3 separate regions of the Homo sapiens genome follow, and all the other regions are linked to region 2. Evidence: fine-mapped expression QTL. A gene starts in region 2. Each other region holds a variant in brackets. All regions are shown on one strand. Distances are from middle to middle. Region 1 overlaps CRTAP (cartilage associated protein). Region 2 holds the start of GLB1 (galactosidase beta 1). Region 3 overlaps GLB1 (galactosidase beta 1).

Evidence for each region.
Region 1: its variant is fine-mapped to the expression of GLB1 in whole blood (TOPMed, PIP above 0.99).
Region 3: its variant is fine-mapped to the expression of GLB1 in whole blood (INTERVAL, PIP 0.91).

Annotation. Positions count from the first base shown.
Region 1 is chr3:33,147,336-33,155,516 of GRCh38, forward strand. It overlaps CRTAP (cartilage associated protein), which reads left to right. Exons shown (of 7, transcript NM_006371.5): 7 at 1-438. SUSD5 (sushi domain containing 5) reads right to left here. Exons shown (of 5, transcript NM_015551.2): 5 at 2,708-6,698. The coding sequence ends at 5,407. Among named protein-coding and RNA genes, the nearest start is that of CRTAP, 37 kb to the left of the region's middle. RefSeq lists an enhancer at 5,480-6,679. The variant C/T (reference allele first, on the strand shown) is at 4,017.
Region 2 is chr3:33,092,497-33,100,677 of GRCh38, forward strand. It overlaps GLB1 (galactosidase beta 1), which reads right to left and starts at 4,650. Exons shown (of 16, transcript NM_000404.4): 1 at 4,515-4,650. The coding sequence starts at 4,589. It overlaps TMPPE (transmembrane protein with metallophosphoesterase domain), which reads right to left and starts at 4,650. Exons shown (of 2, transcript NM_001039770.3): 1 at 4,223-4,650; 2 at 1-1,807. The coding sequence starts at 1,699. The coding sequence ends at 338. RefSeq lists a silencer at 4,238-4,847.
Region 3 is chr3:33,036,083-33,044,263 of GRCh38, forward strand. The region is part of intron 10 of GLB1 (galactosidase beta 1); the gene reads right to left. Among named protein-coding and RNA genes, the nearest start is that of GLB1, 57 kb to the right of the region's middle. RefSeq lists an enhancer at 1-564. The variant T/C (reference allele first, on the strand shown) is at 4,999.

The sequences.
Region 1 (8,181 bases), 55 kb after region 2:
CAAGAGCAGCTATTGTTATCCTTAGAGTGTTTTCCGTCTAGGGCCGGCTCGTGAACAGCCACATATCCTTGCACCTGACACTGTCCCCACACAAATAGCTGGCTTTCGTTGCTTGTTGAATGAATGAGTGAGTTGGCTCTATATCCCCTTGGAGCTGGCCGGTAAGATATTAGTGCCTCATTTTACAAGAAGAGAATAGGAAGGAATTAAGCAATTTGGCCAACAGATACAAGATAGATTCCAGAGTTTTATCTCCCACTTTAGGGTGGCAGCCAGTAGGCCAAACTCCAAAGACCGTTGCTGATGTCTTTTTCTGCCTCCCCTCTTTGGGTTAGTGTGGTATGTACAAGCTCACTCTTGTTGAAAATTAGAAAATAGTTGAAAACAAAAGGTTTTTGTTTTTCTTTTTAAATCACATTAAATGTTTTACATTGCTTATTCTCTATTTTCTATTCTATCCACTGGACAGGGATGTCTTCACCACATTCTAGAAGCTATGTTGTAATGAGCTCTGTTTTCTCAGGTCTGTGAAATTTCTGACATTCATCTAACAAAGTAGAAACTTCAAGCCAGGGACTCCTGGATCTCATGCAAGAGGAGTGGTCCTTGCTCTCCATGAGCCAAGAGCTGGCTGAGGTCCTGTCAGGCAGTAGAGGCTCATGCCTCTCCCCCGGAAGATTGTCTTTCAGAGGAGATCTGGAATCCCACTAGGAAAAACATTTGGAATCTGTTTCAAACAGGGACACAAAGCATCTTCAGGCATGACTGTCAACAGCAACTATGCTCCATGCATGCCACTAAAGGGCAGGCAGGAGAAAGAAGAGTAGAAGGAAGCAGGTGGAAAGAGTGAGGAACCAGCCAGCACAAAAAGAAGTCCACGTTATGGAGAGTTGAAACAGCTGTCTGAAGAAGAGGTGGAGGACATGGAGGTCAGCCCAAGAATTCCAGAGGTTATGGTGAAAAAATCTGGACTGAGGAGAGGAGGTGTAGGGAGTAAGAGTTGAGTGTTGATGGATGTCTTAGGTCAGGATCCTTTGAAGCAAGGGAAGTGATGGGGTGCTCTCAAGAGAAGGGGTGTGAGAGAAGCAGGAAGGAGCCAGTAAGGATGTGTCTTCAGTTGGAGACTGACTTCAGCTTGATCTCATGGGAGCTCTGGAGCATGAATCATATCGGAGTTGGTCCCACCTTGAGGAAAGGAGGCCAGCCTTTTGCATTCCCATGACAGCTGGTCATTGGTTATAGGCTGCCCTAGCAGAGTATACCGTGGTCTAACTTCCTGGGTGAGGGAACTCTCAATAGGCCAAGGGCAATTCTCTGCGTTGGAAGGGTACACTTACGTGCTTATGAGCATTTTAACAGCCAACACTCAGGGCAGCTGGAAGACAGGTTCACCTACCTAGCAAAGGGGACCTGGGAGGGGCATCAACAATGTCCACAACATTGGAAGGCTTGGGAGGCATGGATCTGTGGTGGTCATGGATGTAAAAATGGACATAAGGCAGATGGGATTGGTGCTGATGGCGTCTGAGCTGGATTTGCTAGCTGCCCTTCCGTATCTCTTCCAACATGCCCCTCCAACATGCCCGGTGTCCCAGAAGCCTGACCTCTATGGTTCCATTGCCTGGGCTTCTTCACCCTCTGATTTCCAGTTGCCACTGGGACATGCCAACAAGAGATGGCAGGGTGAGACAAGGTCTGGTTCCTTAAAATCTTTGCTTCCTCCAGGCCACAGTTGGACACTGGCTGCATTCTCTTTGAGGCCAGAGCCCTTGTCCTGCAGGGCCTTTCCTATTACTGAGCTCTTGTTGGGTTCCATAACAGGTCCCCACCATCCCCTGATGGTTCCCCTAACTTTCCCCACACCTTTGTGAACAGTCCCTTCAGCTAACCCTCTAATTACTCCTTTGAGTGTCCTGTGAGTTAGGAGAAAGGGGATAATCAGTTCTCTCTTAGGCCAGTGCTTCTCAAGCTTTACCATTCATGCCCACCACCTGGGCATCCTGTTAGATGCAGATCCTGATTCAGCAGTCCTGGGGCAGGGCCTGAGATTCTGTACTTCTAACAAGCTCGCAGTGCCTGTGCTGCTGGGGCAGGAGCCACACTTTGAATAGCGAGGTCCCGGGTGTTTCGTTGCAGTGAAGTAAGTGGTCTCTGGTTGGGGCAAGGAAGAGGGAAGTAGGGGGGGGCGGGGCAAGGAAGAGGGAAGTAGGGAGGGAGGGGGGGGCAAGAGTGCCACCAACTTCCCTAAAATCCTGCTGCAGGAGGTAACATAACTGAGAGTTAGGTTTAGAAAGGGCAGTCTTAGATCTTAGATATAGCAAGTATTAAGACATTATTTTCAAGATTACTAGAGATTTTTTTTTTGAATGGAGCCTTGCTCTGTCCCCCACGCTGGAGTGCAGTGGCATGATCTCAGCTCACTGCAACCTCTGCCTCCCGGGTTCAAGCAATTCTCCTGCCTGATCCTCCTGGGTAGCTGGTACCACAAGCATGCTATCACGCCCGGCTAATTTTTGTATTTTTAGTACAGAAAAGATTTCACCATGTTGGCCAGGCTGGTCTCGAACTCATGACCTCAAGTGATCTGCCTACCTCAGCCTCCCAAAGTGCTGGGATTACCAGTGTGAGCCACTGTGCCCAGCGAGAATTTTTTTCTTTTTTTAAACCTTGGTGCAGTAGCCTAGAAATAAAATACATTCAGCAACTGTTGGGGCAATAATTATTTATTTTAAATATCTCAGAAGCTTTGTGTTAATAGAACCCCCTCCCCCAATTTTCATGAGCATTAAACATTCACCATTCTCAAAACATGCATGACATACAATTTAGATTTACATTGTTTTAATCATTCCCTTTCAACATGAATTTTTAGATTCTATAACATTAATTTAGAGGATACCACACCAATAAGAACTTAAAAACTGATGTGTTGGGTTTATTTCACAGTCCATGTCTACAAATAAAACATTTACCTGTATTAATAATTTGTAATAAATTTATTAATACACTGTATTAATAATTTGTAATAAATTTATTAATACACTGTATTAATATTGCCTATTTGTTGGTATAAATCCAATGTTCTGGGTTATTCCACAATAATAGTTGCTAACACAGTCCCAATGCTGAGACAGAGGTTATTTTATATAGTTAAAAATAGAAAAGTTATCTTGCAGTAGATTAGGATCTAATTTATAAATATATACAGTCTCTGGCTTTTATTCTATTATGTTTTGCTTTGGCTACATGCAGAAAGCATTTTATTCCTATTGTTCTTGACTTCGTCTGATGCACAGGTATTCTAGTTGGTACCTTCAGGCTTTATTTTACCCAACTATGGGGAATAAGATCTTTGATTATGCTGCCTCTCTTTACAGCTACTTCGCCTATTACTTTTCCAAAGCTTGCTGAAAAGAGGTGGCAGGGTAGAAAACATGTTGCGAATGTTTTTTTTCCTTAGGTAAAACACCACCAACAATTTTTCAATCATAAAAAAGATCAGGATTTCCCTCTACCACACAAAAACACTTAGACTGCTATGGTGTCTCAAAATAAATGTGTTGCATTCATCACTTTTTACCACTGATAACTATTTCTAAGAAGGTGATTCATATTAGAAAAATATAACATGTTTCATTTCTGTGCCAACATACAGGAGACTATTGCAGGTGGCATTTAGGCAGCTTCAAATGCCACCTCAGCTGCACACAGCCATGCCTGACTTCCACACAACACACACCACATACTCATCTGTGCCTTTAGGGCTTCAGCTGGCCTCGAAGTTCACATTTGAGATTATTATAAACCAACAGGCTCTCAAACTTGAGTGCATATCAAAATCACCTGGAGGGCTTGTTAAAAACAGAACTGGGCCCTACTCCCAGGGTTCCTGTTTCCTGAGTCCAGGGTGGGACTAGAGAATTTGCATCTCCAACAAATTCCCAGGTGACGCTGATGCTACTGGTCTGAGGACCACACTTTGAGAACCACTGCCATAAACCATCCTCGCTGAGCCA[C/T]CCTAAGATGATTTAGATGCTACGAAATGGGTTACCCAACAGACAGGATGGATTCTGTTTCCACAGAGCTCCCAGTTTCCACACTAGAGAACAGATCAGCACAGATCATTTCATATTCTTTCACAGATTCTTCTGCTTCTCCATCAAGTATGTGCCCATACTTGATAACCTGGTGTTCGGCCCTCTGAAAACATTTCTTTTTTTTTTCTCCCGTGTCATTCTCTCTTACTGGAGTTCAGAGAAATGGTTAATCCTGAGAGAGGAAACCAAGGACTGAGTTTTGTTAGTCCTGGCAAAAATTCCAAGACATTCCTAGGCACAGACTGGTCAAGGACAACTAGGCCACTGCTTCTGAGAGGAAATGGTACTTACTGGTACAAAGCTAACTTTGTTTTTAAAAAATAATGGCAAATCCTTAACCATGAAATATTGAAAATAAAATAAAATAAATGACAGACTGTCCCACAGAATGGAGGGAACAGAGGGGGATGTGTGTTTCTTCACTCCTCAACTCCCCCAACAAAATGTCAGTCTTAAATTCTAATTTCAAGAAACAATGAAAAAAGAAACCTCAAAGCTTCTAGACTGTGTCCTGGCTCTTGGTTCATCTGCCCTCAGCAACATCACAACATTAAAAGGAAACAACCCATTATTCTTCCATATTCCTCTCCCAATAATTCAATATCCATGTCCTAGATAATACTGCTCTCATACACTTGGTTTATCATGACTATTTATAAAATTTCAGGGCATGAAGCTGGTGATTTTCTTTCTTCAAAAAGGTAATACTGTGATGTGGCTCACACCTGGAATCCTAGCACTTTGGGAGGCTAAGGAGGGCAGATCACTTGAGGTCAGGAGTTCTTGACCAGCCTGGCCAACATGGTGAAACTCCATCTCTACTAAAAATATAAAAAAATTAGCTGGGCATGGTGGTGCATGCCTGTAATCCCACCTACTTGGGAGGCTGAGGCAGGAGAATTGCTTGAACTTGGGAGGCAGAGGTTGCAGTGAGCTCAGATCGGGACACTGCACTCCAGCCTGGGCAACAGCATGAGACTCTGTCTCAAAAAAAAAAAGATAATACTGTGATGAAGGAAGAGGCGATTTTTGACCTCACACTGGAAACAGGGCCCAAGCACAGGTCTGGGATTAGTGTAGTCAATTCCAGGGCAGATGGTGGAGGAGACATTGACATGAGTGATGATGTCACCAAAGCCTCCCTGCCCTCCCAGGTGCTCCAGAGACACTTCTCAGCCTATAAAACAAAGGGCTGAGGAAAAAATGATGAGCCTCAGTCCACCTGCGTCATGCTCTAGTGAATTATCGTGTGATGTGTCACAGTTATTTTCCTCCCAAGTGGCTTTGGGAGAACCCACTCCAAAGGTGCCTAGACCTTCTCCATCTCGATCTGCTGGTGGTAGTGCCGAGCCTGCCGCTGGCCAACATTCAGCTTGTACACAGAGCTCTTGTGCTGGCACTTGCGGTAGCCCCACACCATCCCCACACCTGCCAGGAGCAGCAGTAGGCACAGGACGGTGACAATGGTGGCGATCACAGGGCCTCTGCTGAGGCCAGGACATCCGTCCCCCACACACGACTCCAAGGTGGGATGAAGCTCCTCACTTGCACCTGGCCCGGGGCCTTCCTGTCCAAAGAAGTCTTCAGACAGCAGGTATGGGAAGCTATCCTGGATCTCAGGAACAGTGGTTTCTACTGGAGGCTGGGTGGTTGCCATGATCGTTGAGGGGATGTGGTTAGGTGTCTGCTTGACAGTGTTCACTGTTAATATCTCCAGGGTGGAGCTGGTGAGCTCATAGGACAGGGTGGCCATGGGAGATTCCTCTGTGATGAATCTCCAGGGTAGAGTTGACTGGTACTTCGTCAAGTCACCATCCCCAATGCCCTCAGTCTCGGAAGCATTCACGGGTCTGAGCGCCAAAGCTTCCACATCTAGCATTTGAGATGGAAGAACTGAACTATGGGTCATGCCCTCGCTTGGTGTGAGGGTGCTACTCTTGGGCTTCTTAACTTCCACAAGAATGGGCTGATCAGGAGTAACTAGGACGTTTTCATCCAGCCCTACTGACCCATCCCCTCTGTCCCCATCTTCTTCCTCTTCTGCCTCTGTCTTCCTCCAAGCCCCCTCTGTCACAGGGTAGCCATCTAACCAGGACTCATCACTGCTGCTCACCACTGGATCTCCTGCCTTGCTGTCATTCTTGCCCACAAATGGCCCCGAGGGACCATCAGTGTTGCCGTAGATCACCTTGGTTTCAGGTTCACCTGGGACCAATTTTACACCACTGTGGTTGTCTCCAGCAGAAAACTGCTTTTTGGTGTCATCATCCACCTCCTTTTCCAACCCAGGCTTGTGGAAAGCCTCAGCAGGAAACCAGAACAAGTGCTTCTGGAGCAGCCGTGATCCTGGTGAATCTGCGGGGACACTGCTCCCAGCACCAGGCAAGCCTGTGGTTGGCACAAAGACTTTATCCCGGGCTATGTTTTCTCTCCCCACAGAAATGGAGACCAGACGGTCCTGTTTTGGAGCCTCCTCAGAGGAGTCTCCCTGACCCCTGTCCTCATCTGCCTCTGTCCGGGAATCCTCCATGAGCTCTCTGAATGACACAGATCTGTCATCAGGGAAGTTATCTTCATAGTCAATGTGTGCCTCAGCCTCATCTGGAAGAAAAGAGGGAAAAAACCTCATTAGCTCCAAAGGCACAGAGCCAGTATAGAACATAAGAAAAGGAAATTAAAAGCATAAAGGCTGGGACAGAATAAATAATACTGTTATTATTCACAGATGATATGACTGTGTATCATAGATAAACCCAAATAATCTACATATGAATATTACAAGTAACTAAAATTTAACATCTGAGCTTAGGCCGGGCATGGTGGCTCACACTTGTAATCCCAGCACTTTGGGAGGCCTAGGCAGGTGGATCACTTGAAGCCAGGAGTTCGAGACCAGCCTGGCCAACATGGCGAATGCCCATCTCTAATAAAATACAAAAAAATAGCCAGGCATGGTGGCATATGCCTGTAATCCCAGCTACTCAGGAGGATGAGACATGAGAATCGCTTGAACCCGGAAGGCGGACGTTGCAGTGAGCCAACATCGTACCACTGCACTCCAGCCTGGGTGACAGAGTGAGACTCAAAAACAACAACAACAAAAACAACAACTCAAAAACAACAACAACAAAAAACATGTGAGTTTATTAGGGATACTAGGTCTACAGTAAATATAAACATCAATTGTATTTCTAAATATTGTCAATAAACAGAAAATTAAAATTTAAAAGGATGCTATTTACAATAACATTAAAAAAACCAAACACATAGGAATAAATCTAACAAAAGATGTTCAAGACTTCTACATGGAATGATATAAGACATTGCTAAGCAAAATTAAAGAAGACTTAAATGAATGGAGGAATAGACCATGATCATGTAGTAGAAGGCTCAAGATCATTAAGTTGGCAATTCTGTCCAAATCGATCTATACAGATCTAATACAATTCCAATAAAAATCTCAGACATTAACTGAATGTTAAAGTTTATGGAAATGCAATGGATGGAAGTTTATGGAAATGCAATGTAAGAATAGACAAGGCGATATTGAAAAAGAAAAAGCCGGAAGACATATGCAAAACATTTCAAGATTTACTATAAAACTGCATTACCTTTTAAGGCTGTGGTATTGGCACAAGGACAGATAACTGGATTACATTAAAATGAAGATCCTCTGTTCATTAAAAGCTACCACAAAGAGAGTTAAAATGCAAGGCAGAGTTAGAGAAGCTATCTGCAACACATATGACCTCCAAAGGGCTTGTATCCAGAATTTAAAAAGGACTCCCACAAATCTATACTAAGTAGACAGACAAACCATAGAAAAATTGGCAAGATAGTTGACTTGGGACATCACCAGAAAGATATCAGATTAGTCATTAAACATGTGGAAAGATGCTCAACCTCACTAGTAAGAGAGAAATGTTAATTATAGTCATAATGAGATACCACTGCATAGCACCAGAATGGCTAAAATTAAACAGACCGACAATATCAAATGTTAACTAGGATATACAGCACTGTTAGTGGGAGTGTGAACTGGAACAACCACGATGGAAAACTGGGCATCTCTACTAAAATTGAA
Region 2 (8,181 bases):
TTCTAGCAACCCCGAGGGGAGGTTCATCCCTGGGAGCTCTGCAGGAGAAGGTCCCCATTCCACATCATCTGGAAAATAGAGGGGAGTGCTAATATATGTGACCTTAGTGATCTCACAAGTGCATCAAAAAAAGCAACTGGCCAAGGAAATAGTTAAACCAGCCTGAACATGCCAGGCAGGCCCACCATAAGTCACTGTTTGAGTCAGGCTTGTGACCAAGGGTGTGTAGGCAAGGATGAGTGGGCAAGGCTGGAGGGGAAAAGCAGGCAAACCACTCTGAAGCAGGATGGAGGGTCGAGGACAAGGGCAGGGCAGAGGTGCACAGGGCAGGGCCAGTTCAGGGAGACCGCTGCAGGATGAGCTCTGTGATCTCGGCCCTGCTACCCAGCCTCATGGGTATCCCGTAGTAGGCTGTGCCTGGGCTGACATACACGAATGTAGCCTGGGCCACCTGGTAGAGACCAGCAAAGAAGGGATTCAGGAGATAGGCTGCTACGTTCAAGGGGAAGATCTGCCCAGCATGTGTGTGCCCAGAAAGGATCAGGTTAATATCTGGCCGAGCCTGGAGAGCTCTCTTGGCAGCCAGGGGCTGGTGAGCTAGCAAGATGATTGTGTGGTCTGGGCTGCAGCCCTCCAGGGCCTTGTCAAGATCCATGCCATGGCCAGAGTAGTGCAGGATGTCTGCTTCAATATCGTCCACCCCAGCCAAGCAGATCCAGTCCTCATCCTCACTCCCACTGCCACTGCCACCACCACCACGTTGGGCCCGTGTGGCGGAAATCTTCACGTTCTCATTATGAAGAGGCTGGACATGCAGGGATTCCAGAAGTGCAAACCAGTTGCTGACATCTGACGTGTAGTACTCATGATTGCCTGTGACGAAGTAGGCACCGAGATGTGAATGAAGCTGGCCCAGAGGAGCGACAGCCGTCCGCAGGACCGAGGCTTCTGAGTCGGAGAGGTCACCCACAATCACCGTGATGTCTGGTTCCAGCACATTCACCATCCTCACAAACATTTCCATCTTGGTCCTGCCCACTGTGGGGCCCAAGTGAATGTCTGAGAGGAGCACGATCTTGAGGTTGTTCATTGAGGCAGGCAGCTGATGGATGGGCACCTCCACAGTTTTCACAGCCGGGGGCTGCGCGGCATTCAGAATCCCGGCCACGCTGAGCACAGCAGTCACTCCCACTGCCAGGGCAGGCCTGAGCACGAGCTTCCTTGTCTTCTCAAGGCTGCCCACGACCCTACCACTGCGCCAGGCCAAGAGCTGGTAGGCCTGCTCCATGCCGCTGAGGATGAAGAGGAAGAAGAGCATGATGATGTAAGCACCCAGGCAGGAGTAGGCCGCCAAGGAAAAGAGATAGGGCTCTTCGGCCACTAAAAAGAACATGGTAAAGAAACTGGAATGGGCCAGGGCCAGAAATGCCAGAACCACCACCTTCCAAAGCTGAAAACAGGTTGACTCTGCAGCTGGGGAGTGGCAGAGGTTGCTCACTGTGCTGCGCCAAATGTAGAGGGAGCCAATGAGCAAGAGCGAGTTGACAAACAGGGCAAGCTGCAAGCGAAGCAGCCAACGCCAGGCCCTGAGCTCAAGGCTCTCTGCCAGATACGAGCGGGAGGCGATCATGGACACGAAGACAGTGACAGCAGCCAGGGTGGCCTTCGCGCCTAGGGACAGCTGCCTGAAGATGGCCATTTTCTCTGCTCCTAGTAGGCTCCCCCACCAGTTCTGTGCTGGTGGACTCTGGAAATGAGTTCCTTAGAAAGGACAGTGGCCAAGGAGAGGTTTCCAGGTCAACTCCGCCTGCAACCAGGAACCAGCATCAGCTTTGTGGGATATTAGAGTGTCCTTGTACCCATTCAAAACTCAAAGGCCACTTACATCTGCCCAACCCACCTTGAATCCAAGCTACTCAAATACCAGTCAGTTGCTAGCTATACTTTATTATTCAAAAAGAAACTCACAGCATTGTGACATGATGGGCAGTTTTCATTTTCTTACCACATGTTCTATACGTTTAAAGTTTCTCTACAGTAAGCATGTACTTGTTTTATAAAAACATTCCAAATCAGCGGTATTCAAAGTGTGGTCTGGAGAGAGCCCTTCAGGGGTCCAATTAGTCAAAACTATTTTTATTATAATTCCAAGCCATTACTGCCTTTTCCATTCTCACTCTGTCCTGAGGGGGTGGAGTCTTCCAGAGGCTATGTGACATGTGATATGGCAACAGATTTAATGCAGAAATAAACATGAAAATTTGACTGTCTTCTATTAAGAGACATTGAAAGAGATTTGCAGAAATGTAAAACAGTGCAACTCTTCACCCTAAAATTTGGGGAGAAATACTATTGTTTTTCAAATATATATATTGTTTATTAACGTGTAATGATGTAGTATTTCTTAACAAATAGTTTAAAATATTCTCTAGGGCTGGGCACAGTGGCTGACGCCTATAATTCCAGCACTTTGGGAGGCCGAGGCAGGCAGATTACCTGAGGTCAGGAGTTCAAGACCAGCCTGGCCAACATGGTAAAACCCTGTCTCTACTAAAAATTCAAAAATTAGCCAGGCATGGTGGTGGATGCATGTAATCCCAGCTACTCGGGAGGCTGAGGCAGGAGAATCACTTGAACCTGGGAGGTGGAAGTTGTAGTGAGCCAAGATCGTGCCACTGCACTCCAGCCTGGGCAAAAGAGCGAGACTCTGTCTCAAAAAAAAAAAAAAAAAAAAAAAAAGGAATATTCTCTTAATTTCTAGGACAGCTAAAATTTAGTTAAAATTTGAGAACCGCTGGGTCACGAGGTCAGGAGATCGAGACCATCCTGGCTAACATGGTGAAACCCCGTCTCTACTAAAAATACAAAAAAAGAAAAAAATTAGTCGGGTGTGATGGCGGGCGCCTGTAGTCCCAGCTACTCGGGAGGCTGAGGCAGGAGAATGGCGTGAACCCTAAAGAAATGTAAACAAGGAGATAATGGAAAGCTAGACTGCTGGTATCTTTCTTTAGCTGTGGGCACAGAAGCCCAAGAGGGACACCTAGGCACCTGAAATGAGAATTCCTGGGGTGATGCCAGCCTCCCTGTGTGGGCCTCAGGTATGGCAGCCACAGGGCATCCACCCTGACCCAATGACGCTGCACAAGACTGATGAGCTCACATCAGACAGATTGACCCTGTCCACCTGTTCCTGGTTCATAAATCCTTCTCTCTCTCCCTACCCCCACTCCCAGATACTGGTTAAGATCTGCCTTTCCCCTAGCCCCTTACCCTGCCACTGTTCTCCTGAACTGTGCCCCAGTTCCACCTTCCCCAGTGGTTCTCACAGCTGGCTAGCTCTGACTCCTAAGGTCCTACGGGCCTTCTGGACAAGAAAACTCTGTCTACATACTGGGGTAGGGGAACCACAGACGGGGTGAAGAGGGAGCAGCAAATAATCTGTGCTGACTTTTTCCCAAAATGAAAACATTTTCAGCAGCTGTTTTCCAAATACTTAAGATGTTCAATCTTGGTTGTAGATAAATGTACCACTTTTCTCTGCCCTAGGCACGTTATTGAAAGCGTTATTAAAGGGTGTAACTTACAAGTCAACGGTGTCAAATGCTACCAGCTCTTACTTAAAGCATACTGCAGGCTCAGCCCACCTACACCCTGGAGGAACCAAAGTTGGTCCGCGGAACGTGCAGAGGAGCAGCTTGCAACTACCCACTCTCCTTTCCGCAGGTGTGATGCAAACCTCCCCAGGCAGCGCTTTGGAGCCCCTCAGCCAGTCGCCTCAGCTCGGACGCAGCGAGTGAAGCTGTCCTTCCTCTCCCACCAACTGTGCACGCCCCGCACCTCACCTATTCGCCTCGCCAGCCCTGCCCCGATCAACGATGGCATCCCCCGGCAGCCTGCCTATTCCCCCCCTCAACCTGGACCCCCAAACGCCGAAGGAAAACGGTCCCACAAATACAAAGAAAAACCCAAGCCAAAGGGCAGGCGACGGGGAGTGGTGAGAAAGGAACAAGATGCACGAAGAGGGAGAGCACCCAGAGGGGAAATAACCCAATGTTCCCACTGCAAGGGCCTCTCCTGACCCCATTTTTCTCCTTCCGGAGCGCTCCGCAGAGCACCAACTGGGAAAGCGAGGGCGCCCCAAACCAGAGCCGGAGGCACCCTCTAACCCGCGCAACTTGGAATCCCCTCCCGGAAAGCCAACTTAGGAAATGTTTACACGCACCTCGTCTCAACACCTCGTTACAGATGGGGAAGTGGATCCAAGCGCAAAGGGCGGCCGGAGCGGAACGCACAAGCGACCGAGCTGCCTGGAAGGACGCGCGCCCCGCCCGGCCCGCCCCCGACGGGAAGGCCGGTCCACTGCCTGCGTTCCGCCGGCCGCGAGCCTGCTGGGGGGCACTTCGGGGCTCAGGCTCCCCGCCCTGCGGGACCGCGGGTGGCTGCGACCCCAGCCCGGTTCCCCGCCAGCCTGTCCCCTAGCAATGCCTCCCCGTACCCGGGTCCCGCAGACTTACGCGCAAGCCGCGCGTAGGGCCCAGAAGCAGCAGAACCAGCAACAGAGGGAGGATGCGAACCAGGAACCCCGGCATGACCACCAGCCTCCCGGCTCTGCAGTCGGCGCCCAGGCCGGCCGCTTCGCGTCACTTGACTAAGGACCCACGGCCTGGCACCGCCCCTCGTCGGCCCAGCAGCCAGCCCTCGCGCCTGCTCAGCCCCGCGCCCCGCCCCGCTGTGGCCGAGCCGGGCGGGTGGGGGCGGCTAGGAGGCTGCGCGCCGCCGCGTGACTCCAGGATAGTACTATCTGGGTTTTGCAGGCGTCTTCCCTGGGAAGGGACCCTTTGGAACTGCAGTCCGGAGGGCCTGCTTTCAGCAGCTTGATAACGCGCCTCGGGGATTGGACATGAATCATGGTCTCCCTGTTCCCTGGCTGCCTTGAGAGAGCAGAAGAGGGAAATTGTTAATCATTAAACCTAAACGCCCTAGATGGAATCCGCGTCTCATATACGGGCTCTTTGAATAACTCTAAGCCGGGGGTTAGCAAAATGTGGTCGGTCCCTGGAGCCACTGTATCAACTCACCTGGAACTTGTTAGAATGAAAATCCTGCTCACGCCTGTAATCCCAGCACTTTGGGAGGCCGAGGCGGGCGGATCGCCTGAGGTCAGGAGTTCCAGACCAGCCTGACCAGTATGATGAAACCCCGTCTCTACTAAAAATACAAAAATTAGCCGGGCGTGGTGGCAGGCGCCTGTAATCCCAGCTACTGAGGAGGCTGAGACAGGAGAATCGCTTGAACCCGGGAGGTGGAGGTTGCAGTAAACCGAGATCGAGCCATTGCGCTCCAGCCTGGGCAATAAGAGCGAAATTCCGTATCAAAAAAAAATTTTCTTTTTTAAAATAACCTTAGTTTATGCCTTGGTGTTCCAAAAAGCCTTTTTACATTGTATAACAAAGTAGCCAAAATTCTATTTGTTCACTCCTTTCTCCTTTCCTACCGGACATGTCCTTGAGAGATTGAGAAAGTATCAGAAAGGACATTTCATTGAGAGATTGAGAAAGTATCAGTTACTGGCTTTTCTTAGGTTTTTGTTTTTTGGTTTGGGGGGTTGTTTTTTTGTTTTGTTTTTGTGTTTTTTGAGACAGGGTCTCACTCTGTCACCCAGGCTGGAGTGGGGCGCAATCACGGCTTACTGCAGCTTTGGCCTCCTGGGCTCAAGCAATTCTCCCGTCTCAGCCTACCAAGTGGCTGGGACTACAGGCGTGCGCCACCACACCCGGCTAATTTTTGTATTTTTTGTAGAGACAGGGTCTCACCACGTTTCCCAGGCAGGTCTTGAAGTTCTGGGATCAAGCAATCTACCTGCCTGGAACTCCCAAAATGCTGGAATTACAGACATGAGCCACCGTGCCTGGCTTCTTTTCATGCCTGTAGTACCAATTCCGTGTCCTTGCACTGTGAAGTCCTTTCCAAGCTCTGCAATTCTAGTTCAGTATTAAAGAACAAGGGCTCTGGAGGAAGTACACTTGAGTTGGAATTCCAGCTCTGCCACTTACTGTCTGTGTAACTGTGGGCAAATTACTTAACCTCTCTGAGCTTAGTTTCTTTGTTGGTAAAGCAGGGCTAATAATATCAAATTCACTGGATAATTGGGGAAATTACCAGAGATGATGACGATAAGAAGCTTGGTATATACAGGATGTTAGTGGGACAGTTGATGAAATCAGAATTAGACTTGTAGGTTAGATTAGTACCATGCATCAATGTTAATTTCCTTTTTGGGGGGGTGGGGGGACAGAGTCTCACTCTGTCACCCAGGCTGGAGTGCAGTGGCACAATCTCGGCTCACTGCAACCTCCGCCTCCCAGGTTCAAGTGATTCTCCCACCTCAGCCTCCAAAGTAGCTGGGATTACAGGCACCCACCACTAGGCTTGGCTAATTTTTGTATTTTTAGTAGAGATGGGGTATCACCATGTTAGCCAGGCTGGTCTGGAGCTCTTGACCTCAAGTGATTTGCCCACCTCGGCCTCCCAAAGTGCTGGGATTACAGGCATGAGCCACTGTGCCCGGCCGCATCAATGTTAACTTTCTGATTTTGATAATGGTACACGGTCTAAATATTAAATAATAGTTTTGTATTAGTGTATTGATTTGGGTAACGGTAATGGTAATTTTGGTAATGGTTATATAAAAGAACATCCTTGTTTTTTAGGAAACAAAAGGGCATCATCTTTGCAACTGATTCTCAAACAGTTCACAAAAAAAAATGGAGAGAGAGAGAAAGAGAGAGAGAGAGAGGGAGAGAAATGGTATTCCAGGCATGAAAAGAACGTGAGAAAGAAAAGCAAATGTGGTAAAATGTTAACATTTGGAAAATCAATGAAGGAATTATTTTTACTCTTTTTTTCAACTTTTTGTTTCTAAGCCTGAAATTATTGCAGAACGAAGTTTAAAAACAAAACAAAACAAAAATCCTTAACACATGGCAGATTCAACTTCTTCTACCTTCTTTCCTACTCTGTACACTCAGGGTTATCATATGCAATAGGTATTTTTAACTGAACTGAGGTAGAAAGGGTTTAGAGCAGGAGTTGGCAAACTAAGGGCAGAGGATCAAATCTGGCCTGCTGCCTGTTTTTCTTTTTCTTTTTAAAATTCTTTTTACTAAGAATCGGCACAATTTGCTGCCAGTTTTTCTATGGCCTGCCACCTAAAAATGGTTTTTACATTTTTAAATGAATGAAAAAAAATCAAAAGAATAATATTTTATGACATTTGAAAATGTTGTAAGTTTCCTGTGTCAGTGTCCATAAATAAAGTTTTGTGGGGTTGGTTTTTGTTTTTTTTGTTTTGTTTTGTTTTTTTAGACACAGTCTTGCTCTGTCACCCAGGCTGGAGTGCAGTGGTGCAATCATAGCTCACAGCAGCCTTGAACTCCTGAGCTGAAGCAGTCGTCCCATGTCGGCCTCCTGAGTAGCTAAGTAGCTGGGACTACAGGCGAGTGCCACCATGCCTGAATAATTTTTTTTTTTCTAAAGACAAGATCTTGCCTTGTTGCCAGGGTTGGTCTTGAACTCCTGGCCTCAAGTAATCTGCCCACTTTGGCTGCCAAAGTGCCAAGATTACACATAAATAGTTTTCTTAGAACACAGCCACCTATAATCCTCTGCATATTGCATATGGTTGCTTTCACGCTACAACGGTAGAATGGAGTAGTTGCAACACAGATCTTAGGACCTACAAAACTGAATATATTTATGTTCTAGCCCTTTACAGTATAAGCTTGCCAAAGGAATATAGATTGTAGATTGTTTCTGAGATTTTTAGTATTTGACTATGTTTGTAGTTGAAATGGCAATAGTAGTAATAGCCATTGTTGTGCTGAATGCTTTACCAGTATGTGTCACTATTCCTCCCAATCCGAGCTGCATGCTCTTATCCACATTTCACAGATGAGAAAGCTGAGACCCAGAGGAGTTAAATGACTTGCCAGTAGCCACAGAGCTGGGGAGCAGTAGAGTCTCTAAAGTTACATTGCCTGACGTTAGGGCCTGAGTTATTTTCACAAGGCTATGCTTCTGCTCATAGTGTACTGTTTGGTTCCCATTTAAATGCACAGACAGAGTGTGCTGGATGCAAAGCCCCCTGCATACTGGAGAATATGAAGGGACCATGAGAAGGCT
Region 3 (8,181 bases), 56 kb before region 2:
GGAAGTAAGATCCCTTCCTGGCCAGTCAATACTGAAGTTTAAAATTCTTCTGCCTGGCTCTGGTTCCAGAGTGTGACAGTCAGAATGGTCCCAGCAGTGGTTCATAGAGCAGGGCCTCTTAAACAGCTGCATACAGAAGGATTGAGGGTGATGGTGTAAGATTATCCCAGCCATCGATCAGAAGAGCAAGGGAAGGTCAAGAAAAGTGTGTGGAGTTTCAGGGATAGGGGATGGCAGGAAGAAGTAGCTAGAAGTATGAGAGAATAAAAATGTGCTGTTATAATGAGGCCAAAAGTAAAGTGATATTTTATGCAATAAAGCTTATGTAAATATGTGTTTTAAAACTTGATTTGATTTTTTCCACATTAGGAAAGTTCACTATTTCAGAAAGAAAATAATTCTAAAAATAAGCCTACCAGCAACTCCACTTCTAGGTATGTCCCTAGAGGAATGACAAGCAGAGACTTATCCATATTGATATTTGTACTCTGATGTTCAATGCAGCATTATTCAAATAGCCAAAAGATGGAAACAACTGAAATGGTCATCACCAGATGAACAAAATGAATAGGTAATTAAAATATCATATACGCATACAATGGAATATTAAGCCATAAAAAGAAATGAAATTCTGACACGTTACAACGTTGAAAACATTGTGCTAAGTGAAATAAGCCAGATACAAAAGGACCAATATTTTATGATGCCACTTATATGAAATATCTAGAATAGGCAAATTCACAGAGACAGAAAGTAGACTAGGAGCTACTAGAAGCTGAGGAGAGGGTGACTGGGGAGCTATTGCTTCATGGTTACAGAGTTTCTGTCTGGAAGGAAGAAAAAGTTTTGAAAATAGATAATGGTGATGGCTGTATAACATTGTGAATATAACTAATGGCACTGAATTTACATTTAAATATGGTTAAAATGGCAAATTTTGTTTTATATATATTTTACCACAATTAATTTTTTTTTTTTTTTGAGACAGAGTCTTGCTCTGTCACCCATGCTGGAGTGCAGTGGTGTGATCTCAGGTCACTGCAACCTCTGACTCCCATATTCAAGCGATTCTCCTGCCCCAGTCTCCCGAGTAGCTGGAATTACAGGTGTGCGCCACCATGCCAGCCTAATTTTTGTATTTTTAGTGGAGATGGGATTTCACCATTTTGGCCAGGCTGGTCTCGAACTCCTGACCTTAGGTGATCTGCCTGCCTCGGCCTCCCAAAGTGCTGGGATTACAGGTATGAGCCACCACACCTGGCCTAAAAAATTAATAATATAACAAAAAACATTGAATGGTGTACTTTGAATGGGAGAAATGTATGTGAATTATACCTCAACAAATCTGTTTAGAAAATAAATAAACCTGAAGTGGATTGTGAAATGAAGCAATAGTCTATAAAAGAAACAAGTCCACAGGCATTATAATCAAATCAAGTAAATCAGTAGTCCTGGCTGATAGAAGACACCCAAACTAAACATGGAACAGTAACTCTTACCTAGAAAAAACTACAGTGCTCATGTCACACTCTCTGTAACAGGATACCCTTTGGGTCTGGACACCACATAAAAACTAATAGAATGGCAGAATAATACTTCCTCCTTGATTTTCTTGGGAGCAATTGAGCAATGGTGATTACTGCAGCTACTAAAGGGCACTGTCAACAGAGGCTTTGAGCATAAGTGGGCACAAGTTTCCAGGGGAATATTTAACTCTAGTTTGAAATTTTACAATGACATAAGTGAAGAAAAACAGTAATAAAAATAACTGCTATGTATTATTCTCTGAGAAGACATGCTAACCGTATTGCACAGATGTGGAAGGAGGGTACCTTGCCCACTGAGTACTGGAGTCAACACTCAAGTTTTGTTCTGTCTCTCTCCAAAGCTTCTCCAATCTGTGACTCTACCTCTCACACAATACTGGGCGACTCTTCAAAAAAAAAAAAAAAAAAAAAAAAAAAGGCTCAGATTGGTGAGAGAGGTAACAAATTGCATATCTGCCATATCTTTAAAACTTGCTTAAAGATGATTTCATTCTATTTGGAGAAACTCTGGAGTAAGAGGGATGCTTAAAGAGAAAAATTCAAATTTATCTCTTCTGTGAGCCCCTCCAACACAGGACCATGGTAGACTTATCACTCACCTCTAGCATTTAACACGGAAATTGTAAGACTGGTGTTGAATGTTTGTATAATGATTAAGTGGATGATCGACAGATCTCAGAAAAATAATTTGTGAAAGGTTTGCCCTGTGCTCTGAAGGTTAACACCTTTGTGTATAGCAAATTCTGGAGAATCTCTTAGGGAGTAAGTAAATCTCTGAAACTAGGTTTTTGTTGACAAATCTTGCTGTGGAAAACATCTAGAACAATTGTACAAGATGTTTTAAAATATCTTTTTGAAAGCATCAGAAAGCTACCAAAGCAGAAAGGAATTAAGTGGTTACAATTCCAAAAAAATGGAAAATGTCATGATGCAAGTCTGATATTTGTTACTAGTTTTCCCATCAAGGTATTTGTCAATTCACAAGGGCCAACTGAGAGGCTAGAAGCCGAACACAACTTCTGGGAGTCTTCTAGGGCTGAGAAGATAAAAATTGGACTTCAGAGATCAGAACGGAGAAAGAACCCTGGTAAATACTTCAAGCTCTCAGTTGAGACCCCTAAGAAAGTGAACCAGAAGCGGACCAACCCTCAAGAAGACAGAAGCCCACTTTCAAATTAGCTTAATCCCTGATTGCATGAAGATGATCTCTGTCTACTCTAACTGCCTGGTAGAAGTAAAAGTAAATCTCTTTTGGAAGAAAAAACATATATAACCCAAATTATCTCTTTCTTTTTTGTTTTATTGACCTCTAGATGAGAAAAAACCCAACATATAGGAGACAACACTATCTGATCAAAAACGAATAGAAAAAAAAGCCAGGGCCGGGCGTAGTGGCTCATACCTCTAAGCCCAGCACTTTGGGAGGCCGAAGTGGGCAGATCATGAGGTCAGGAGTTCAAGACCAGCCTGACCAACATGGTGAATCCCCATCTCTACTAAAACTATGAAAATCAGCCAGGTGTGGTGGTGCACAGCTGTAATCCCAGCTACTCAGGAGGCTGAGGCAGGAGAATCACTTAAACCCAGGAGGTGGAGGTTGCGGTGAGCTGAGATCACACCACTGCACTCCAGCCTGGGCAACAGAGCAAGACTCTGTCTCAAAAAAAAAAAAAAAAAAAGGAAAAAAAAGCCATTGAAACAGACCCATAAGACATCATGGTATTGGAATAATCTGAAGAAAGCTTAAAATTATGCCAATAGACATACAACAAAAGAAGATGAGGAATTTCAGCAGAGAACTGGAAACAATTTTTAAAATCTAATGGAAGCTCTAGAACTGACAAATGCAATCATTGAAATTGAGTCTATAATATGGGTTTCACTCAGACAGTTGAAAAGAGGATTAATAAACTAGAAGATAGGTCAGAATAAAATCTAAACTAAAATATGTTCGGGGGAAAGGATAGAAACAATGGAAGCGCTTAGGAGATACACAGAACACAGGAAAAAACGTCTAACACACATATCACTGGTGTTCTGAAAGGCAAGGTGGGAGAACGAAGTAAACATAACATTGGATGAGATAACAGCCAAGAATGTTCTAAAATCCACAAAAGAAATAATGCCATAGATTTAGGAAGTTCAAACACCCTCAAACAAGATGTATATAAAGAAAACTATGCATAGGCATACCATAGGAAAATTCCTAAAAATCAAAGATGAAAAGGAAATCTTAAAAGCACTAGAGAAAAAAAGACCTATACCATCAAAGGAAAACCAGTGACAGGTGATTTTTCAAAAGAAATGATGGAGGTCATACATACAAATATGGAATGGTATTTTGAAAATGCTGATTTTTAAGACTGCATAAACTGATAGAAATAAAAAAATAGCCCTAGGAGTAGCTTAGACATAACATCTATCTAAGCTGTTCCTAGATCCTTTACCCTCAGAAACTGTGATATAATAAATATTTGTTATGTTGAGCTACTAGGTTTAGGGGTACTTTGTTACATGGCAATAGGTAGGGAGAAAATAAATCTCCTTTGAAAATTCATATGCACAGTCAGCCCTCTGATATATTTTGTAGCTAAAATTCACACTGCTTCTGTAGTACAAAAAAAATCCCTCAATTTAAGATTTTAATTTAAGGCGTAATGTTCCCTGGTACCTGCCAGAAGCAAATGCTAATTCTCTCTGGAAGAACCCACATTCACCCCAAATCTCAAATAATTCCTAAAGATAAAAGTTCCATGAGTGAGCCCAGGAGTTCAATACCAGCCTAGGCAACATAGTGAGACCCTGGCTCTACAAAAAAAAAATAAAAAATAAATTAGCTAGGCATGGTGGCACATGCCTGTAGTCCCAGCTCCTCAGGAGGCTGTGGCAGGAGAATCACTTGAGCCCGGGAGGTTGAGGCTGCAGTGAGCCAGGACTGCACCACTGCACTCAGCCTGGGCGAGAGTGAAACCCTGTCTCTAAGAACAATGACAACAACAACAACAACAAAAAGTTCCAAGAAATTCAGCTCAGTCAAAATCACAACACACACGCAGAAACAAGACACCATGAACAAGAGGTCACAGAAACAACAAAAGGCAGAATGAGACAAAGAAAGACTCTGCATACTGAAATGATCAAATAGAGATATATAACAGAAGTATCTCTAGTATGTTTAAAGAAATAAAAGAAGAACATGTATACATAAGGAAAAAGCAAGAGAATTTAAAAATGGCTGAGTAAAATTCGAACTGCTAATGTGAACTTATAGAATGAAAAATATAATTTAATAATTCAATGGAAAGGTTTTAATCTTAGAATTTATAGCTACTAAAGAGAAAGCAACAATTGAAGAACATATTTCAAGACAATCAGAATGCTGCACAGAGAAAAAGAGATTACGAGCTGTGAAGGCTAGAATCAGAAGGTCTAACAAATTATCTAATAGAAA[T/C]AAATATTTGAAGACATAATGGCATAAACTTTTTAGGACTAGTGAAAAAAGATACCAAGCCACAAGTTCCAAAACTACCAAGCAGGATAAACGAAAAGAAAGTCACACTTAGATTCATCACAGAGAAACTATACAGCGTCAAATATAAAGAGAAAATCTCAGAAGCTGTCCAAGAGGAAAGATAGATTATCTTCAAGAGAGTGACAGAGTACAGTAAACTGACTTCTCAGCAGCAACAATAAAAGCCCAAAGTCAGTATGCTGAGAGAAAACTATCAGTTTAGAAAAACTACAATTTGAGGCCGGGCATGGTGGCTCACACCTGTAATCCCAGCACTTCGGGAGGCTGAGGCAGATGGATCATCTGAGGTCAGAAGTTCAAGACCAGCCTGGTCAACATGGTGAAACCCCATCTCTACTAAAAATACAAAAATTAGCCAGGTGTGGTGATGCACGCCTGTAATCCCAGCTGCTTGGGAGGCTGAGGCAGGAGAATCGCTTGAAGCTGGGAGGCAGAGGTTGCAGTGAGCCAAGATCTCACCACTGCACTCATTCTGGACAACAGAGTGAGACCCTGTCTTCAAAAAAAAAAAAAAAGAAAGAAAGAAAAGAAAAACTGCATTTTGAAAATGAGGGTGAAAAAAAAATTTTCAGACAAAGAAGAATTAATATAACTTGCTTACTAAATGAAATTCTAAAGAATATACTTCAGGCAGAAGAAGCAATAGAAGATAAAGAAAAGTGTGGTCCTGGGACAAAGGTACCAGACCTTTGTCTCAAGCTGTGCATTCATATATCCACTGCCTACTCTACATCTCCACTAGTACATATACTAGACAAGTCTAACTTTGCACAGCCAAAACTGAACTCCTGATCTTCCCCCCACATAAATGGTAACTCTGTCCTTCAAGTTGCCATTTAAAACACTTTAGAGTCACCCGACTCTCCTCTCTTTCATACTCCCCATCTGAAAATTATATTAGCACTAGTTTCATAATATATTCTGAAACTGCCTAGTTCCTACTACCTTCATAAGCCACAATCACCTCTCACTGAGATGGCTGCAAAAACTTTCTAACTGGTCTTCCTACTCTACCCTTGCCGCACCTCCCAGGGTCTAATCTCAACACAGCAGCTGGAATCTGCTTTAATAGAATGCTTTAACAACGGCTCTGCTCAACTCCTCAATGGATTCCCATTACATTCAGAGTAAAAGCCAAAGTCTTATAATGGCCTGTAATGCTCCATGTGATCTGTTCCCCATCTATATCCCTGACCCCTCATCTCCTCCTTTTTTTTTTTTTTTTTTTCCAAGTCTCGCTCTGTCGCCCAGGCTGGAGTGCAGTGGCGTGATCTCGGCTCACTGCAAGCTCCACCTCCCGGGTTCACGCCATTCTTCTGCCTCAGCCTCCGGAGTAGCTGGGACTACAGGCGCCCGCCACTATGCCCGGCTAATTTTTTGTCTTTTTAGTAGAGACGGGGTTTCACTGTGTTAGCCAGGATGGTCTCGATCTCCTGACCTCGTGATCCGCCCGCCTCGGCCTCCCAAAGCGCTTGGATTACAGGCGTGAGCCACCGCGCACAGCCTCTCCTACTTCTTACCCCTTCATTTACTGGGCTCCAGCCACACTGGCCTCCTTGCTAGTCTTTAAAAATGCCATATACCTTCCCAAGTTCTCACTGGCTGCATTCTGCCTGGAATGCTCTTGTCCAGGCGGAGATATGCCACATGGCTCTCTCACCACCTTAAAATTTTTGTTTGAGCTCCACCTTTTCAGGAAAGCCTACAGCCACCAAGCACCTAAAACTGCAACCTGGCGCATGCAGAGTACTTGATGAATGTTTGTTAAATCATTTGCCAATAAATGAACTATGTGGGTCAAGTGAAATACTATCTGAAGCCATTGTAGTAATGCCCCATGGGTTTTATTTTTTAAGGAGAGAACTAAAATACATGAAAACTAAACCCAGAGAATTAAAATACATGACAATAATAACATACAAATCAAGAGGGCTGTAATTGGAGTTACAGTAAGTTAAAGAGGGATGCAATATGGAGAAAGTAAAGATATTGATTAATTTTAAACTATTACAAGACAGCCAGACACAGGAGTGTATATTGTAGGAACTTGCTGCCTAAAAACGAGCAAAATGAATCTCTGGTGATAGAGGTGAGGACAGCTGTGAGCTCAGGAATGGGTATGTGTGTCAATGACTAGAGAGGGACATTAGAGGGGCTTCCGGGGAGCTATGTGTTTGTCACAGGGCTGCGCTCCCGTTGCCTAAATTCACTGAGCTGTGTACTACGAGTTGTTCTTTTCTGGGGGTATAGATGTCACACTTAAATGGTAACCACTAAAAAAATTAGAATGCAGTGAATAACTTCCAAAGTAGAAGAGGGGGGAAAGAAATAAGAGGAAAAAACAAAACAAAACAAAAAACCTCAATCTAAAAGAAAGCAATAAAGGGAAAGAAAGAGCCAAAAAGGTAAACGAATAGAAATTATAAAATAAGATAATTGAAATTCATCTATGTATATCAAGAAGTACAATGAATGAGAATGTATAAATATATCAGTTAAAAGACAAGAAATTTCAAACTAGATATTTTAAAAATTCGATTATATCCTGTTTATAAGGGACACATGTAAACAGAACAAAGGATATAAAAAGGATGAAATTACAGCATTGGGAAAGATACCTCAGAAAAATACCAAGCAAAAGTATGCAGGTAAATGGTGTTAATGAATAACAGACCAAAAAAAGAAAAAAAAAAAAAAAAAAGGCTTCCAGGCAAAAAGCCTTATTAGAAATAGAGGGTTATATAATCCCTTTACTATTAAGTACTGAAGGATGTAATTCTCAATTTGCCCACCTAATAACATAACCTCAGAACTGGCAGAGCTACAAAGGGAAATACATGAGGACAACTCTCACTAAATAGTAGACTGAACTGACAAAAAATTAGGAAGCAGATCAAAGATATCAATGGCACCATTAATAAACTTAATCTGATGAACATGTATGTAGAATATAGTCAACAACTGTAAAATATACTTTCTTTTTATGCGCACATTGACCATTAATATTGGTGTATGTCAGGCTCTAAGACTAGGCTCAGCAGCTTTCAAGGGATTGGTATCACAGACTATATTCTCTAACCAGAATGCAAAAAGACTAGAAAT